Regions from separate parts of the Homo sapiens genome. Here region 1 is linked to region 2. The links come from fine-mapping of genetic effects on gene expression. A gene starts in region 2. The other region holds a variant in brackets. All regions are shown on one strand. Distances are from middle to middle.

Region 1 (2,896 bases), 25 kb after region 2:
AGGAGTTAGAAAATCACTATGTTGAGTGGGCATAGTGGCTCACGCCTGTAATCCCAGCACTTTGGGAGGCCGAGACAGGAGGATCGCTTGAGCCCAGGAGTTTGAGACCAGCCTGGCCAACATGGTAAGACCTCATCTCTACCAAAAAAATTTTCAAAAAATTAGCTGGATGCTGTGGGATATACCTGTAGTCCCAGCTACTTGGGAGGCTGAGGCTGGAGGATCCTTTGAGCCCAGGAGTTTGAGGCTACAGTGAGTCATGATCACAGCACTGCACTCTAGCCTGGGTGGCAGAGTGACACCTTGCCAAAAAAAAAAAAAAATGGTAGCACAATGTAGATTTTTACAGAAGGAGCAAGAAAGGCCACGAAGCAAAATGTTTAAAAGCAACAACTTGAAGTGAAAGGTTTAAGGAGCTCATTGAGCTTTCCTTTTCTCCGGAAGACCCCAGAGAGAGCCCTGAGTGGGTCTGTGGCCATTGGGAGTCTCTGGCCACCACAACGGGAGCTTGTGGTCCTGTAGGAGCTGATGGATGGGTCAGCATCGCCTGGGCCGAGTGCCCATGTCTGCCATGTGACTCGTGGTCTTCCACAGCAGACACTCAGCTCTCTACATACAGGCGTGGCTGGTACGAAAGCCACAGGGGCTCCCCCAGGGCCCCAGCTCAGGGTCGGACGTGGGATGTGGCCGGCCCCAGACTCTCTGCTCGAGCTCATCTGTGCAGCCTCACAGGGGCTGGCCCTGCCACGGGTGCCCCTCCCGGGCCGTGCACCAGGAGGTTTCCACCCTGACCTGTGAAGATGCAGCGCTCTTCGGATCTGAGCAACACACTTCATTCAGGATGGGCCTTTCCCAGGACAGCACTGATGGGAGCTTCCTGTGCACACCTGTTGGGCTGTGCTTCTCCTCGGAACATCCGGTTAAGCAGGAATGGGGCCTGTGTTGGGGTAAGGGGCTGCTCCACTCCCTCCATGCCCCACCTGCAACTGTGCAACCACCTCCTGCATCCAGCCAAGCTGAGGGGTCCACATGGATGGTCAGCAGGGTTTCACCTGGCAGTGAGATCTGCCCCCTGCACTGGGGGGACGAGGGCTGGTCTGTCCTCATGTCCTGCCCCAGTGGCCACCCCAAGCCCCAAGGGAAAAGCAGCACAAGTGTGTCTGCTCCCCACTGCGTAAGGGCACCTGCTCCTCTTTCCACCGGCCAGCTCCTGGATGCCCCACACCCGCAGCCTGTGAGCAGAGGGTGGCAGGAGGGAGAGGAGGTGACAGAGAGCCCAGAGATAAAAGCCAATGTGTGGGCCACTCCTGAAGGCTGCAGGCACAGAGACAGGGGGCACCTATCAGGGCTTGGGGCTGAGAGGACGCCCAGAGCTGCAGGCGGAGAGCAGGGGTCACTGCCAAGGG[C/T]TCTGGCCAGAAAACCAGGCATGGGGCTCTGGGGAGCCTTCAAGGAAACAGGCCCGGGGCTGTGGGCTGAGGCGGGGCTCTGGTGAGACAGCTCCTAAACCCCAAGCCAGCATGGCCATGCTGGGTCCCTGACCTCCAAGGCCATTGCTCTGGGGGATAAGACACGCCCAGTAAGCAGGATCCCAACATCTACTCATCCCGGCAGCCTCTGGGCCTCTGCAAACCCTGCTCGGGGGGAAGAGGAGGCTGAGGGGGAGGCTGCACCAGGCAGAGCTGTTGGGGAAGGGCCCCTGGATGCCACATGTGAACCTCAGAGAGGGCAGGTGTGTGGGCAGGCACGGCCGGGCCACGGGAGCACGTGTCCGGGCAGGGAGAGGGCAGTGGGCCTGGGCTGAGCAGGTTGGGGGCCCTGCGAGAGAGACTAGGGAGGTCTCCAGAGGGGTGGCATGCCCAGGGTGTTAGGGAGATTGATGTGGCGGCAGCAGACCCCCGAGGAGGCAGGGGTGAAGGTGTCACCCAGGAGGCTGCAGACAGCTGGCCAGCCGGGGTCCGAGGGGCCAGTTAATGAGGAGAGAGCCAAGGGCCAACGTACCCAGGAGGAAGGAAGGAAGCCAGGCCAGGCAGGGATGGGTGGCGAAACACAGCGTGAGACCACAGTCATGAAGTAACTCCCGCAGCCGCTCCACTCAAGCCGGTCCTGAGGCGGTTTCCACACTTGTTGGCTGTGACTACAAATTAAAAAGCCAAGTGCAGACATCAAGGCTGCCCTGCAGCTGTGACACCCCTCCCCGCCCCACCCACCACGCCTCTGACTCCCAGCCGAGGGCCGAGAGCCCCTCCTGAGCACACCCCATCCACCCAGCTCCACAGTGTGCACAGGGTGTGGCAGCCTTGGATGCAGAGAAGCACCTTGCAGCCTCCCCAACAGGTTCCCGCTGGCCCAGTGCCAGCCCTTGCCCCAGTTGTGCAGGGACCTGCGGAGCTGTGCTGCAATTCATTTCTTTGGCAACAATGACCTGAGAGAGCCTGGCCTTAAGAGCGAAGATAAACGGGCTCTTCGACTAGGATGTCCTTGTCACAGCGGGAGGGAGATCTGCAGCTGGCCCTGCTCCCTTACCCCTTTGCACAACGTGAGGAGCCCCTGAGAAGAGCCCATGGACCACGCCGAAATGCAGGGTGCTGTGGGGTTCTCCAAGGAGGAGGCCAGGCCCTTGTCCTCAGCTCAGCCCCGGGGGAGGAACCCAGGGAAGGGGAGACAAATTTTGCAGGGATGTGGAGTCCCAGAGAGCAGGGCCCCTGTTCAGAGCCGAGAGGGGCCGCAGGGCGTGGGGGCAGAAAGAAGTGCAAGGGCTGTGCACCAAGGACACAGATCAATAGCCGGTTCCTCAGAGTGCAGCTGAAAAGCTTAAAAGCTTTGAAAATGCAATGTCTGGGTTCTGCCGGTGAGCACCTAATAGTGCTCTCTGAGAGTGGCCCCCGACTCTGCCTTT
Region 2 (2,896 bases):
TTCCACTCAGCATCCATGGCTCCTGAGAAACTCCATCCCTGATGGGGGCTGCCAGTGCCACCCTGGTGCCAGAATTGGGCTCTTCTTTTTTCCTCCAAAGATGGCTGAGCTCAAGCCAGAGAGGACACCAGCAGGCTTTCCCCAGCCCCCCCAGCCCACCTGGTTGTCAGCCCCCGCCCCACCCCAGGGGCCTCACAGCATTGTTTAACCCTGAGCTCGGCTGGGTTTCACCCAGGTGCCTAGACCAGCCTCCTGTCCAGTCTTGCTTTCCTGGAGGGTGGGGCCAACCCTTTTGAGAAGCCACAAGCCTATTTGTACCCACAGGGTCCCAGGACCCATCTGGGCACCCAGAATGACTCAGACCAGACCCTGGGGGTTCCCAATCTGGGGAAGAGTCCCTGTTGCAGACCTGAACACTCAAATTTGTGTATGGGGAGGGAAAGGGGCATGAAGGTGCAGGGGAGGTGGGTGGTGACCACAGGCCCTCTGCTGTAGGGCTGTTCAGGGACTGTGCTGGCTGATGGAGCCTGACTCCCCTCCCCCAGCGTGGCCTGCCACGACCATGGCCTCACCCAGGACCCCCAGCTCATGGCCTACAGGCCAGGTCAGCAGGAGATGCTGGCACTGGCCCTGTGGGAGGGGGACACTCTGCCCATCCCCCCATCCTGGGGAGGGGCGCAGGGTCCCTGCTGTGCGGGTCCGGGGACCAGGGCCCCCACTCCTCTCCTCTGAAGCCCCAGGCGCGGCGGCACTGCCCGGCTGACAATCGGTGATCGCGACAGGGCTGGGTGAGGGCCGGCGGGGGCGGGGTCGCGCCTGGGCGCCCAAGGCGCTAGTGTCACAATGGGTGACAGCCGGCCGGGTCTCCCGGCGGGGGAGCGGCGCTGCGCACGTACCTGCTTGTCCTCTGCGGGGTCGGGGTCGGGGTCGAGTCCGGGTCCGGTTCCGAGCGGGTCCGGGCCGGCGGGCGGGGGAGAGACGGAGAGACACGGTGAGAGGCGCGCGGGCGGCGGGGACAAAGGCGCGCGCGGGCACGCGGGCAGGCGCTGGGCTCACCTGGGGTCGCCAGCTTGCTCTTGTACCGCAGGCCTGTGCTCATGGTGGCCGCCGGCGGGGGACGTGCGGGGCGGGCTCGCGGGCGGGGCGCGACGACAAGCGGCGGAGGCCGAGGCCGGGCTGCGGGGTGAGCGGCCCCTCCGCGCCGCCGCCGCCGCCGCCCGCTCCGCCCGCGCGCCCGGCAGCCAATCGGCGCCCGCCGCGCCCACGCGCGACCCAGGGCGGCCCGGGGGGGCGGGGACCCAGGTCCCCCACCATGGACCCGAGACCACGGCCTCGGGGCGACGCCCTCGCCTCCTACAGCCCTGGCCGCGCCCGGGGTCACCCGACCAGACCCGCGCCGCCCCCGCCCTGCACGGCTGTTCCTGCCGGCCTCCTCCCCGCCACCTCCCCGGTGCCGCAGCCCAGGCCCAGCCTTACGCTCCCCCCGCCCTCGCTGGGACCCGGGTCCATGCCGGTCCTCGGACCATCCGTCCGGTGGCCCTTCTCTAAAGCCTGCCCTGGCTTTCCGGGCCAGACCCTGCACGCTCCGCCCCACCCCGCCGAGGTCAGCAGGGATGGTCCTGGCGCGGCTGGCCAGTGCCCAGCATTGCCCCTGCTGACCGCTCGGTGCTGCGCAGACCTGCTCTGCGAGCAGACGCACCTGGCAGGCTGTAGGCCACAGGCTTTTGGGCAGTGGTCCGGCCTCTCTCTTCCTGGGCTGTAAAATGGGATTATTTGTGAAGAGGAGTGATCTGAGGTGTCTGGCAGGACCGGCCCTGACCGTCTCACCCCAGCTCTGCGCCTGCTTCTCTGCTGACCCATAGGCTGTGGGGATGCTCCAGGCAGACCCGATCCCACCCTGCGGAGAAGGCTTGTAGGGGACCGAGGGGCACTGTGAAGGCAGGGCCAGGGCCTGCACCCCATTTACAGAGGGGGAAGTTCAGGCCCTAATCTTCAGTGAGTCAGCCAGACTCAGTGACTGAGAGCAAGTCTCTCCGGTCATTTGTGTCACTATCACATTCCCAGGTGTCCTCCGCCTGGACTTTCCCAAAGTGTCCCCAGGCGGCATCTCTGAAGGCTTTGGGGCTGTCAGGCTTGCGGTCACCACCTCCCCAGGTGAGGGCCCCCTTGTATGGAGATGTCTCCTGCACCCCGTATAGACAGTACCTCCACAGCCAGGGAATCCGCCTCTGCTCCCCACCCGTCCTGTGCCCCTTGGTCCCTCTGCTGGCCCGTGGGCTCCCTGGGTGGAGGGGGGTGTCGCTAGGGCCTTTCCATCTCTGAATCACCAGCACCCAGCACGGTAAGTGAAAAATTCATGTAAGCCGCGTCTTTGTTCCACAGTCCTTGCTCTGCTGCATTCTGTGGCCAGAGCGCCGTTGACCATAACCCTGCTCTGGGTCTAGAACTCTAACCAGTGTAGGGATCCCCCACAGTCCCAACCTCTCATCCAAGATGTGTTTGGAACTCAGGCTTTTTTGTATACATCATACATTATGTGGCACCTCTTTGGAACCTGGGGCTGCTCCTCATAATCAGACCCATTTATATTTTCGGGGCAAAACATATGTATTCAGGTGAACTGGAAGAAATAAAGACAGTAAGTGATGGCGCATCGTTCAGGTCCAGCTTTGCCACTGAGTTTTGAAAAACCTTTATGTTTCTGAGCTTTGGAGAATTTGGAATTTCGATAAAGAAATGTGTGTTGAGGTCAGGAGATCAAGACCATCCTGGCTAACACGGTGAAACCCCGTCTATTAAAAATACAAAAAATTAGCTAGGCATGGTGGCACATGCCTGTAGTCCCAGCTATTCAGGAGACTGAGGCAGGAGAATCACTTGAACTCAGAAGGCGGAG

Alleles and levels. Positions count from the first base shown, and alleles are read on the strand shown. Sizes are in standard deviations (SD) of each study's normalised expression.
For the expression in unexposed skin of the gene that starts at base 1,185 in region 2, allele T in region 1 goes with a lower level than allele C (small effect, 0.34 SD a copy in GTEx).

The links. PIP is the estimated chance that this variant, and not a neighbour inherited with it, causes the effect. A credible set is the group of variants that fine-mapping cannot tell apart.
Region 1: its variant is the best candidate, but not a certain one, in a credible set for the expression of SEPTIN5 in unexposed skin (GTEx, PIP 0.89).

The regions. Positions count from the first base shown.
Region 1 is chr22:19,687,381-19,690,276 of GRCh38, reverse strand. No RefSeq gene overlaps it. Among named protein-coding and RNA genes, the nearest start is that of SEPTIN5, 26 kb to the left of the region's middle. RefSeq lists an enhancer at 1,291-2,139. The variant C/T (reference allele first, on the strand shown) is at 1,407.
Region 2 is chr22:19,712,792-19,715,687 of GRCh38, reverse strand. It overlaps SEPTIN5 (septin 5), which reads right to left and starts at 1,185. Exons shown (of 12, transcript NM_002688.6): 1 at 1,057-1,185; 2 at 897-907. The coding sequence starts at 1,099. LOC124905079 (a long non-coding RNA gene) reads left to right here and starts at 893. Exons shown (of 2, transcript XR_007068003.1): 1 at 893-991.